3 separate regions of the Homo sapiens genome follow, and all the other regions are reported to be linked to region 1. Evidence: microRNA targets listed by miRTarBase, many of them from high-throughput screens and not tested one by one. Region 1 holds a microRNA gene; each other region holds the end of a gene's coding sequence.
What was found. Region 1 holds the annotated microRNA hsa-miR-6794-5p (CAGGGGGACUGGGGGUGAGC, at 2,437-2,456, opposite strand). A microRNA usually pairs through its seed, bases 2 to 8, with sites in the 3' UTR of a target mRNA and lowers its output. Matches are read on the target gene's strand: a 7mer-m8 pairs with bases 2 to 8, a 7mer-A1 pairs with bases 2 to 7 and ends in A, and an 8mer does both.

Region 2: the mRNA of MRPL44 is a reported target of hsa-miR-6794-5p. The part of its 3' UTR that is shown has no 7-base or 8-base seed match.
Region 3: the mRNA of EMID1 is a reported target of hsa-miR-6794-5p. Seed matches in the 3' UTR shown: 7mer-m8 at 607-613.

Annotation. Positions count from the first base shown.
Region 1 is chr19:12,850,519-12,854,720 of GRCh38, reverse strand. MIR6794 (microRNA 6794) reads right to left here and starts at 2,461; the gene lies at 2,394-2,461. MAST1 (microtubule associated serine/threonine kinase 1) reads right to left here. Exons shown (of 26, transcript NM_014975.3): 8 at 2,686-2,787; 9 at 2,474-2,606; 10 at 2,326-2,393. RefSeq lists an enhancer at 2,032-2,532.
Region 2 is chr2:223,966,171-223,970,372 of GRCh38, reverse strand. MRPL44 (mitochondrial ribosomal protein L44) reads right to left here. Exons shown (of 4, transcript NM_022915.5): 4 at 2,659-3,510. The coding sequence ends at 3,339. Among named protein-coding and RNA genes, the nearest start is that of MRPL44, 11 kb to the right of the region's middle.
Region 3 is chr22:29,258,709-29,262,910 of GRCh38, forward strand. EMID1 (EMI domain containing 1) reads left to right here. Exons shown (of 15, transcript NM_133455.4): 15 at 109-889. The coding sequence ends at 236. It overlaps RHBDD3 (rhomboid domain containing 3), which reads right to left. Exons shown (of 7, transcript NM_012265.3): 5 at 1,994-2,156; 6 at 1,618-1,905; 7 at 1,164-1,529. The coding sequence ends at 1,352. Among named protein-coding and RNA genes, the nearest start is that of RHBDD3, 7.2 kb to the right of the region's middle. RefSeq lists enhancers at 888-1,742, 1,743-2,596.

The sequences.
Region 1 (4,202 bases):
GAAATTCCACCTCTAGACGTATATCCTAAATAACTCAAAGCAGTTGTCCAGCCAAATATTTGTACACCCACATTCATAAGAGCACTATTTACAACAGATGAAAGATGGACAACCCAATGTTCACCAGTGGATGAATGCATCTACCATTCAATGGAATATTACTCGGCTATAAAAATGAATGAAGCAGTGACACAAGCTACAACATGGATAAACCTCAGAAACGTTATGTTAAGTGAAATAAGCCAGTCATAAGAGGCCACAGAGCATACGATCCCATTTATAGGAAATATCCAGAAAAAGGCCAGGCATGTGGCTCACGCCTGTAATCGCAGCACTTTGGGAGGCCAAGGCAGGCAGATCACCTGAGGTCAGGAGTTCGAGACCAGCCTGACCAACATGGTGAAACCCTGTCTTTACTAAAAATACAAAATTAGCCAGGTGTGGTGGCGCATGCCTATAATCCCAGCTACTCAGGAGGCTGAGGGAGGAGAATTGCTTGAACCTGGGAGGCGGAGGTTGCAGTGAGCCGAGATCACGCCATTGCACTCCAGCCTGGGCAACAAGAGTGAAATTCTGTCTCAAAAAAAAAAAAAAAAAGAAATATCCAGAAAAAGCAATTCCACAGAGAGAGAAAATAGATTAGTGGTTGCCAGGGACTGCAGGGAGGGAGGAATGAGGAGGGAGTGTGTAATGGGTGTGAGGTTTCCCTTTGGGGGTGATAAAAAAGTTCTGCAACTACATAGATCTAATGGCTGTACAGCATGGTGAATTACTAAATGCTGCAGAATTGTTTATTTATTACTATTAATCATTATTATTATTATTATTATTATTATTATTATTATTATTTTGAGACAGAGTCTCGCTCTGTTGCCCAGGCTGGAGTGCAGTGGTGGGATCTTGGCTCACACCAACCTCCACCTCCCGGGTTCAAGCAATTCTCCTGCCTCAGCCTTCCAAGTAGCTGGGATTACAGGCATGTGCCACCACGCCCAACTAATTTTTTTGTATTTTTAGTGGAAATGGGGTTTCACCATGTTGGCCAGGCTGGTTTCGAATTCCTGACCTCAAGTGATCCACCCATCTTGGCCTCCCAAAGTACTAGGATTACATGCATAAGCCATTGCACCTGGCCTATTCTTTATTATTTTTAATTTCATTTTTCAAGACAGGGTCTCACCCTGTTGCCCAGGCTGGAGTGCAGTGGTGTGATCATGGCTTACTGAAGCCTTGACTTCCTGGGCTCATAGGATCCTCCCACCTCAGCCTCCCGAGTAGCTGGGACTACAGGGGTGCACCACCACGCCCAGCTGATTTTTTATGCTGCCCAGGCTGGTCTCAAATGCCTTAGCACAAACAATCCTCCTGCCTTGGCCTCCCAAAGTGCTGGGATTACAGGCCTAAGCCACTGCACCCGGCCCCGAATTGTTCATTTTAAAATGGTTAAAAAGGCCGGGCGCGGTGGCTCATGCCTGTAATCCCAGCACTTTGGGAGGCCGAGATGGGCAGATCAACTGAGATTGGGAGTTTGCAACCAGCCTGACCAACATGGAGAAATTTTAGTCTCTACTAAAAATACAAAATTAGCCGGGTGTGGTGTTACATGCCTGTAATCCCAGCTACTCGGGAGGCTGAGGCAGGAGAATTGCTTGAACCCAGGAGATGGAGGTTGTGGTGAGCTGAGATAGTGCCATTGCACTCCAGCCTGGGCAACAAGAGCAAAACTCCATCTCAAAAAATAAATAAATAAATAAATAAAAATAAAATAAAATGGTTAAAAAAGTAAATTAAATTTTATGTTTCATGGATTTTAACATGACAAAGAGGTCACAGGGGAAGAGCAATTATTTTATTTTATTTTATTTTATTTTTTGAGACAGTTTCGCTCTTGTTGCCCAGGCTGGAGTGCAGTGGTGTAATCTCAGTTCACAGCAATCTCTGCCTCCTGGATTCAAGTGATTCTTCTGCCTCAGCCTCACAAGTAGCTGGGATTAGAGGCATGTGCCACCAGGCTTGGCTAATTTTTGCATTTTTTTTTTTTTTAAGTAGAAACGGGGTTTCTCCATGTTGGTTAGGCTGGTCTCGAACTCCCGACCTCAGGTGATCTGCCCACCTTGGCCTCCCAAAGTGCTGGGATTACAGGCATGAGCCAGCATGCCAGGCTCTGGAAGAGCTATTATTAATCCCATTTTATGGATGGGAAAACTGAGGCTCAGAGTGTAGGACCAAGAGATCCACAAAGCCTGAGGGCAAAGAAGCCGGAGATGAGCCCCACCCTGCCCTCCCAGGAACCAGGGTACTGACCGCTTAGCCACCCAGCCTTACCTCAGAGAGATCGTCTTGCTCAGGGGTGTTGGAACCACCACTGTCCTGTTCCTCCAGATGCACCACATCTAGGGAGGGACTGAGAGTGAGCACGAGCTGGGTTCTGGGCCTGCTCACCCCCAGTCCCCCTGCGCCCACCAGCCGGCACCTGGAAAGGGGTCACGGGTGAGGCCCAGCTGGCGGATGATGTAGCGGGGGATGTCCGTCTTCACAAGGTGGCCCTCCTTGGCGTGTCCTTCGGCCGCCTCCAGCAGGTGGTAGAACTCCTCGGGGTTGAATTCCTGAGGCAGGGCAGGAGTGGGCTCACCACAGGCTCCCAGGGTCTACCAACCCACCCCTACCCATGCCCAGCCCCCTCACCAGGCACTCCAGCAGCCTCGCAGGGCGTGAGATGATAATAAGCAACTTCTTCACCAGCTGAGTAACGAAGGCCACCTCCAAGCTCTCAGAGCGTTCATAGGCCTGTGGCAGGGGACACAGAGGGACAGGGCTCATAGGCACTCTGCCTCAGCCCGGCCCCTCTCTCAGCCCCTCAGAGTACATACTGCTGCTACTGTCCCATCTTACAGGTGAGGAGACTGAAGCCCAAGCCACACAGTAAAAATAATGAGGCTGGGCACGGTGGCTCATGCCTGTAATCCCAGCACTTTGGGAGGCTGAGGTGGGTGGATCACTTGAGGTCAAAAGTTTGAAACCAGCCTGGCCAACATGGTGAAACCCCATCTCCACTAAAAACGCAAAATGAGCCAGGCGTGGTGGCAGGTGCCTGTAATCCCAGCTACTTGGGAGGCTGAAGCAGGAGAATCCCTTGAACCTGGGAGGCAGAAGTTGCAGTGAGCCAAGATCACACCACTGCACTCCAGCCTGGGTGACACAGCGAGACTCTGTCTCAAAACAAAAGCAATGACAAACAAACAAACAAACAACAAAACCATAGCGAGACCCTGTCTCTACAAATAATAAAATTAGCCAGGTGTGGTAGTGTGTGCCTGTAGTCCTAGCTACCTGGGAGGCTGAAGTGGGAGAATTACTTGAGCCCAGGGGGCTAAGGCTGCAGTGAGCTGATTATACCACTGCACTCCTGCCTGGGTGACAGAGAGAGAGACCCTGTCTCAAAAAAAAAAAAAGAAAAAAAGAAAAGAAAAAGAGGCCGGGCACAGTGGCTCACGCCTGTAATCCCAGCATTTTGGGAGGCAGAGGAGGGTGAATTACTTGAGGTCAGGGGTTTGAGACCAGCCTGCCCAACATGGCAAAACCCCATCTCTACTGGAAGTACAAAAATTAGCTGGGTATAGTGCCACACACTTGTAATGCCAGCTACTTGGGAGGCTGAGGCAAGAGAATCGCTTGAACCAGGGAGGTGGAGGTTGCAGTGAGCCGAGATCACATCACTACACTCCAGCCTGGGTAGCAGAGTGAGACTGTCTCAAAAAAAAAAAAAAAGAAAAGAAAAAACTAATATCTTATTGCAATACTTGAAAAGCCTAAAATTAATGCCAAAAATCTATCATAAGCCAAAATATCAAAATTTAAGCCAGATGTGGTGGTACATGCCTATAATCCCAGCTACTCAGGAGGCTGAGGCAGGAGGATTGCTTGAGCCCAGGAGTTCAAGACCACCCTGGGCAACATAGAGAGTCCTCCATCTCAAATGAAAAAGAAAAAGAAAAAGAAAATTAAATAAAGACAGAATCCAACAGGCTGTGCCTAGCCATATTGTAACTTGAGCCAAAAAAAAGTATGCACCAACCTATATGTGTTTTAATGTGTCTTTGAAAATGTCTAATGGTTTCAATGAAAATAGTATTATTGATGAGTTTGCTTTCATTAAAACCAGGACAGTAAAATTATAACACATTCTGGCTTGGTTATAAATA
Region 2 (4,202 bases), not on the chromosome of region 1:
ACATACAACACTTTGAGAAAAATATTCCTCATTATACATATGCATATAATAAAGAGTATGAATTTAAAAGAATAGGGGTTATGTAATTAAGTCTGTAGACATTAATGTTACATTTTTGGCTAGAGGATTTTTTTGGTACAATTATACTTTGGGCACAGGGAACTGGAGAGTGGGAAAAGGTGGAAAAAGTCAGAATTTCAAAGTAAATGACTAATGTCTTCCTCTGGTGTGAACCTAAATTCAAATGTCAGTGCTTCCAGTCTTATGACTGTCTTCTCAACATGGACGAGGCATTAGTCAAAGAGCTAGTCCTTCACATGGTCACTGAATGCTCTTGGTCACATGCACCATTTGATGACATTCTTGTACCCACATGTTCCTTCTACCCACATATCATACTTATGCAGTTAGGCTCATAGGACAAATAGCTACTCAGAGACTGGTTCCAAATTTCAAGCTATATTTGATATGCAATTGAAAATGTATGTCAATTTTTCTAAATTTTCTACATTTCTACCCTATTTTAGAGGGTGCTTTTAAAAAGTACAACAATTTAAGTTCAAAGAAGGCTTTACTTAGAAATATGTTGAAATTACATTCTACATAAGGCATATGGATCTCTACTTGCAAAGTAGTTTTATGAACTAGAGCCAGACTTGTCCCACATGTAAATTTGGAAGCATTCAAAGTTTAAAAGTTTGAAAACCTAAAAGGATAGTTCCCCTCTAAGCTTGCAGGGTAAGGTCCTGCAAACTCCCCTGAGCAGGAGAAATTTGGGAACGCACAATCAGCACTATTTAGCGGGGGGGGGGGGGGGGCGGGGAGGGGGAAGAAAAGGATTACTGGGTTTGCAAATGAATTCCCTAGACTTTCTTAATGTTTACCTTAAAAAAAATTAGAATCATACCACAGCTAGATTCTGCCATCTCACAGATGCTGGATAAGTGGTCAGAAGACATGTCTTTTGCTTTCCAGAAAAGTTTGTCATATAATCTCTTTTCTCCTACAGTGCCAATGAGATGCTTATCAAATCATGTTTACTTGTGAGTAACACATATAAATGGCATTTTACCACTGGTTTTGGTCCTCTATCCTTGTGTTCCATTACTAGGAGTTGAAGTTAACTCTGAAAAAAAGGTAAAATATAGTTGACCCTTGAACAATGCAGGGATTAGGGATGTTGACCCCTCATGTAGCAGTAAATCTGTATATTAACTTTAAACTTCCCAAAAACTTAACTCCTAATAACCTATGGCTGACTGGAAGCCTTACTGATGATATATTAATAAATAATCAATTAACACATATTTTATTATATAGATTATAAACCTTATTCTTACAACAAAGCTAAAAATATTAAAGAAATCAAAGAAAATATATTTACTATTCATTAAGTGGACACGGATGATCAAAAAGGTCTTCATCCTTGTCTTCACGCTGAGTAGGCTAAAGAGGAGGAGGAAAAGGGGGATGGTCTTGCTGTCTCACGTTGGCAGAAGCAGAAGAAAATCTGCATATATATACTGATCTGCACAATTCGAACCCACGTTGTTCGAGGGTCAACTTTAACTCACTTTTAACCTGCCAATTCAGTCAACTAGTTAATTTTTCAAATTTTCCCCTCCAAAAAGTCTCTGCTTTACCTTTGGGAGCTATAAACCCTGTAAGATAACTCAAGTTCCACTTTCCTAGCCAGGCTCAGGAAAGGCATTTCAAAGTTCCTTCATCTTTCTTTATAAAAAAATGTCAGGCCGGGCACAGTGGCTCACGCCTGTAATCCCAGCACTTTGGGAGGCCGAGGTGGATGGATCACGAGGTCAGGAGATTGAGACCGCCCTGGCCAACATGGTGAAACCCCGTCTCTACTAAAATACAAAAAAAATTAGCTGGGTGTGGTAGCACGCACCTATAGTCCCAGCTACTCGGAAGGCTGAGGCAGGAGAATCGCTTGAACTCAGGAGGCGAAAGTTGCAGTGAGCTGAGATCGCGCCACTGCACTCCAGCTTGGGCAACAGAGCGAGACTCTGTCTAATAAATAAATAAATTCATGGCAAATGTACTGTTGGTTTTAACATTTTACCTCTTTTCTATTCTCAACTCGTAGGTCCTGCTATTCTTGTTAACCCCTGGGAGTGACTAATGGAAGACTCAAACTAAAAATTACTGTTGCCAAAGTTTTTAACAAATGATAAATCAAAAGGAATTTGCAGTTAGGGGATTATTGAACTGACCACAAAGGATTAGAAAACCAAAACCTCTCTACTGAATTAAATGTGTTCCAATACTTACAACACTGCTTGGTACATACTATTATTATGACTAGAATACTAAATTGAACTAATACTGGCTTTATTTTCCCTTCACCATTAACATTTTAAGCTGTTTTTGAGTTTCAACTTCTTAGAAAAGGCAATTTCTGAAAAGCATAAATTTGCCTTTTCCTGCTATTTATAATAGAAATTGAATAAGAAACATACTAGAAGTATACATAATTTTAAACTTAGAATTTAGGGATCATGTAAATAGCTGCCTACTTATAATCTGTACTATGCATTTCCCAAAGAGTTTTAACATTACTATTTTAGTTAAAATTGTATTACAGAAGCGAAGTTCATCAACCTCCTGCCATTACTGGGTATATCAAATTAAAATGCAATGTTAACATGTGGAGAAAAAAAACTTTATTGGTATTACAGCAAAAAATTCACATAAGATACATAAATTATGATACCTCAAAGCTAGACGCAAATAAAATACACCTAATTATACAAATTCTATACAATTAAATCAAGAACATTAGGAAAATTTTTTTGCAAAAATGTCAAAAAAAGATTTGATCTGGTCGGGTATAGTGGCTCACACCTGTAATCCCAGCACTTTGGGAGGCCAAGGCGGGTGGATCACCTGAGGTCAGGAGTTCAAGACTAGCCTAGCCAACTTGGTGAAACCCCATGTCTACCAAAAATACAAAAATTAGCCAGGTATGGTGGTGTGTGCCTGTAATCCCAGCTACTAGGGAGGCTGAGCCACGAGAATCGCTTGAACCTGTGAGGTGGAGGTTGCAGTGAGCCGAGATCGCACCACTGCAGTCCAGCCTGGGCGACAGAGTAAGACTCCATCTCAAGAGAAAAAAAAAAAGATTTGATCAAACCAAGATTTCAGAAAAACAAAACCAAAAACACTGTGACTTGGTTAACACTTATTTAATTTTGGGAACACAGTAAAAAACAGAAACAAAACATCTATTTCTTCACAATTGTGAAAATGTCTGGCTTGAAACACCTTTGACATTTATCTCACTTTCGCTCTCAAGTTTCAGGCTGCTGCATCCATGGCGGCTAGCTGGCAGTGATGCTCTTTTCTGCTCTCAAGGTTTCTTTGGGCTTGGAATAGTTCCACGGCCGTCTATTTTCTGTGAATCCATAAAGTTTTCTAAGGGCCACTCGAGCAGCCTCTTCTTCTGCAACCAATACTGTTTCCCCAGGTCCTTCTGCAATCAACTTTTTATCACTAGAAAGAGAACAAACAGTAGTCTTAAATTACATGGAATATTGTAAGACAGTACACAAAGCAGTTATAAAGCAATTATGCCTTCTACATCTATTTCAATAATACCCATTAGAAGTAACACAATAGCTCTGATAGATCATCTTTTGGATTTTAACTAGATTTGTTGCAAGTTCATTACATATGGTAATTAGACAAAGATACACTTACGTTTCCTTAGAAATATATACAACTCTGTCAAGTCAAAAAAGCAAGTCGTATCTAGGTTTTCAATTGTTGATGAGAGAATTGGAAGAATATGTAAATAAATATCTCCCTACAAAAACCTGAAACTAGTAAAAATATTATCAGGAATTATGACTATTTTTATTTTTAATGTGTGATATAACTTGGGAAAAATAAATATCTCCTTACAAAAACCTGAAACTAGTAAAAATATTATCAGGAATTATGACTATTTTTATTTTTAATGTGTGATATAACTTGGGAAAAGATTCTGTTGAAAAAATTATGCCTTTTGAGTCTGTCATTTAAACTTTAACACAAATAAGAAACCAGAAACCAGCTCTATATTTCAAATTAAGAACTTTAGGCTGGGCATGATGGCTCACACTTTTTTTTTTTTTTTTTGAGACTGAGTCTCACTCTGTCGCCCAGGCTGTAGTGCAGTGGCACGATCTTGGCTCACTGCAGGC
Region 3 (4,202 bases), not on the chromosome of region 1:
TACCTGGCAGAGCGTGCCCGGTTCTGCCACCCCCTAGAGGGCCAAGGGGAGGTGGGCACCTCACATGAACCCCTCTAATGTGGCCTCTCTCCTTCTTCCCTCCGGCAGAACCAGAGCTGGGGTCTGGGGCGGGCCCTGCCGGCACAGGCACCCCCAGCCTCCTTCGGGGCAAGAGGGGCGGACATGCAACCAACTACCGGATCGTGGCCCCCAGGAGCCGGGACGAGAGAGGCTGAGGGTGGTGGCGGCCCCTGAGGCAGACCAGGCCAGGCTTCCCCTCCTACCTGGACTCGGCCAGCTGCCTCCAGGGACCGCCCGTCCATATTTATTAATGTCCTCAGGGTCCCTTCTGCCATCTAGGCCTTAGGGGTAAGCAGGTCTCAGTCCTGGCACCATGCACATGTCTGAGGCTGAGCAAGGGCTGAGAGGAGAGGCTTGGGCCTCAGTTTCCCTCTGTGAAGTGGGGGGAGGCAGGCCTTCAAGGAGGGATAGAGGTACAAGGCTTCGTCTCATCTGCTGTCTGAGCATCCAGGCCCAAAGGCACTGAGGGAGTCAGGAGCTGGGGCTCGGCACATGCAGAGATGACAGGGCAGGGGGCAGTCTTCCTCCCCCTCCCCGACCAAACCTCGGGGAGCCCTCCTGTGCCCCTCCCTCCTTGTTGTCCAGTGCTGGGCTCCCCACCCCGAGGTCAGGCTGCCCAATCCTCTGACTGGATCACCGGGGGCTTCTTGCCTCAGTTCTTCCCTCTGAGCCCCCAGGCCCTCCCGCATCTCAGGTTGGGGATGGGGACATGGAGAGGAAGGGGCCGCCTACTCCTGCAAATGCTTGTGACAGATGCCAGGAGGTAGATGTGTGCTGGCCAATAAAGGCCCCTACCTGATTCCCCGCAGCTTGGTCTCAGTGTGTGCTTAGATGGGGGCAGCTGGGAATGAGGCTACGACGGAGAGGGCTAGAAATGGGCGGTGGAGAATGCTCTGTGCTGGAGGACAGAGCCTCCTGGAGGTATAGGCTGCAAGGTGCAGGGCCAGGAAGCCTGTGTCTCTGGACATCAGGGAACAGCTCTCCCACAACTGGTCATTCATTTGGTGCTCACTCATTCATTCATCCCCCTGATGCCAACACAGAAGAGTCAAACACAACTGCTGCCTCCAAGGAGGTCCAGGTTGAAAAACAAACTGGTTTTTATTCTAAACACGTACTAGGGCAGCATGCTGGGGGGCCTCTCCTGCCTCCAGAGGTGCCCCTGCTCCCCACTGTGGCCCTCTTTAGACAGAGTAGGAGCTCGGGCTACCCACATGCAGCCCAGCCCTTAGCACCCAAGGGCCTGCCTGTGCCCCACTCTCTGCCTGGGCTAGGGAGGCCCAGGACCCTCGGAGTGGGCAGGCCCACCCTTTCCATGGGTCACCAGGGTCTCAGTGCCCACTTGTCCTCCAACCAACAGTGACACGGCACCCTCCACACGGCCTGTGGCTGCCAGTGCCACCACCGCCTGCTCCGTAGGGAAGCCCATGCGCTCCAGCTGCTGCAGCCTGTTGGGGGTGGGGGGAGAAGTGGGGAGTGTCAGGGCCACCCCGGCCCCTATACCAGGGGACCCCACCTCTGCCCACCCCACCTTACCGCAGAGAGGAGACAGAGGACTTGGACAGCCATGGTGCGCTCTGGGGTTCCTGGGCTGGCCCGTCAAGAAGCGAGGCCTGGATGCCCTCCTGCAGCATCTGCTCATCCAAGGCCGCCCACATCGGAGTCCCTGGGGAGAAGCTGGCCCCAGCCCAGTCCAGGCCTGCCTCTGAGGAGCCCTCCCAGGTGGGCTGCACAGGCCTCAGGCTTGGTGGGGGCAGGGCTGAGTCTTCCCAGTGGGACCAGAGGTCAGGGGAGGCCACATAAGGCGGTCCAGGGATGGGAGGCCTGGAGGAGTGGGAAGAGAAGAGGGCCTGACTGGCAGCCCTGCCACAGTGCCCACCACCTGGACTGGCATCCCCCCCATCACCCTCACCTCACTCCGGCAGGATGGGTGACAGGCAGCTCCGCCAGGCTACCCGGGGTGGCAAGGAGCCTCAGGGGCCAGCACCCCGCCAAGGTCCTGCACAAGACGCCCTCCTGCAGCACCTGCAGCCGTCGCTCTGAGGGTTCCAGCCACCGGAAGGCCCCAGCTGCATCTGTCTGCCCGGGGCAGGGCGGCCGGTCAAGGAAAACCAAAAGCAGCCAGGGGTGGGCCCACGCCACAGGCCAGGCCCCATGCCAAGTGTGCTGGCCACCATTCCCTCCCGTCTCCTCACTGTGGACCAGCATGGAATAGCGTCACCCTGGTCAGCAGCAGAGGCTCAGAAAGGAAAAGGGATCTGCCTGAAGCTACTCAGCCAAACAGAGCCAGGTATGCCTCACCCCAAGGCCTGGGCTCACCCGTGACCCACTCTGTTCCCAGAACCCTATGCACCTTTTCAGGTCTGTAACTCAAGACCCACCCGTCCTGGAAGAAGTCCCATGGACACACCTGCTATTGCCTTCAGACAGGCCTGGATAACTCCTGTCACCAATCCAGAGTGCAGAGGCCAGCCTGTTCTCTCCAGTGGCACTGTTTTCCCCGATAGGTATGAATCATCTTAGGGCTGGACGCAGTGGCTCACAGCTGTATAATCCCAGCACTTGGGGAGGCTGAGACGGGAGGATCACTTGAGGCCAGGAGTTCAAGACCAGCCTGGGCAACATAGACCCCGTCTCTACAAAAAATTTTTAAAATTAGCTGGACGTGGCAGTGCACACCTGTAATCTCAGCTACTCAAGTGGCTGAGGCAAGAGGATCGCTTGAGCCCAGGAGTTTGAGGCTGTAGTGAGCTATGATGGCGTCGCCACACTCCAGCTTGGGTGACAGAATGAGACCCTGTCTCTAAAAATTAAAAAAAAAATCTCAGAAGCAGAACACCAATAAAGAGTGCTCTAGCACGACTTATTTATTTATTTATTTTTGAGACAGAGTCTCACTCTGTCACCCAGGCTGATATGCAGTGGTGAAATCTCGGCTCACTGCAACCTCCAACTCCGAGGTTCAAGCAATTCTCCTGCCTCAGCTTCCCGAATAGATGGGATTACAGGCACGTGCCATCACACCTGGCTAATTATTTTGTATTCTTAGTACAGGGTTTCACCATGTTGGCTAGGCTGGTCTCAAACTCCTGGCCTCAAGAAATCGGCCCACCTCAGCCTCCCAAAGTGCTAGGATTACAGGCGTGAGCCACTGCACCCAGCCTCTAGCACCATTTATTAAAAAGAATATTCTTTTCCTCATTGAATCGACTTGGCACTCTTGTCAAAATAAATTGACTATACAGTAAATCTAACAGTTTATTTCTAGATGGTCAATTCTAGTCCATTGATCTGTATGTCTATCCTGATGCCAGTACCACAATATCTTGATTATTATAATTTTGTACGGCTTTTTTTTTTTTTTTTTTTTGGAGAGAGTCTTGCTCTGTCGCCCAGGCTGGAGGGCAGTGGTGCAATCTCAGCTCACTGCAACCTCTCTCCTGGGTTCCAGCAATTCTCCTGCCTCAGCCTCCTGAGCAGCTGGGATTACAGGCGTGTGCCACCACACCTGGCTAATTTTTGTATTTTTAGTAGAGATGGGGTTTCACCATGTTGGCCACGCTGGTCCTGAACTCCTGACCTCAAGTGATCTGTCTGCCTCGGCCTCTCAAAGTGCTGGGATTACAGGTGTGAGCCACCGCACCTGGCCACTTTTGTAGTTTTAAGTTTTGAAATTGAAAAGTGTAAGTCTTCCAGGTTTGCTTTTCTTTTTCAAGATTATCTGAGGTATTCTGGGTTCTTTACATTTCCATATTATTTTTAGGACCAGCTTGCTAATTTCTGCAACAACAACAAAGACAGCTGAGATTTTGATAAGAATTGTGTGGGATCTATAAATCAACTGAGTAGCATTACCATTTTAACAATATTAAGTATTCCAATCCGTGAACATGAGATCTTTCCATTCACTTAGGCTTTTAATTTTCTTTTTTTTTGAGAGGAAGTCTCGCTCTCTCGCCCAGGCTGGAGTGCAGCAGCGCTATCTTGGCTCACTGCAGCCTCTGCCTCTCGGATTCAAGCAATTCTCCTGTCTCAGTCTCCCAAGTAGCTGGGACTACAGGCGCCTGCCACCACGCCTGGCTAATTTTTGTTTTTTGGGGTTTGAGACCGGAGTCTCACCC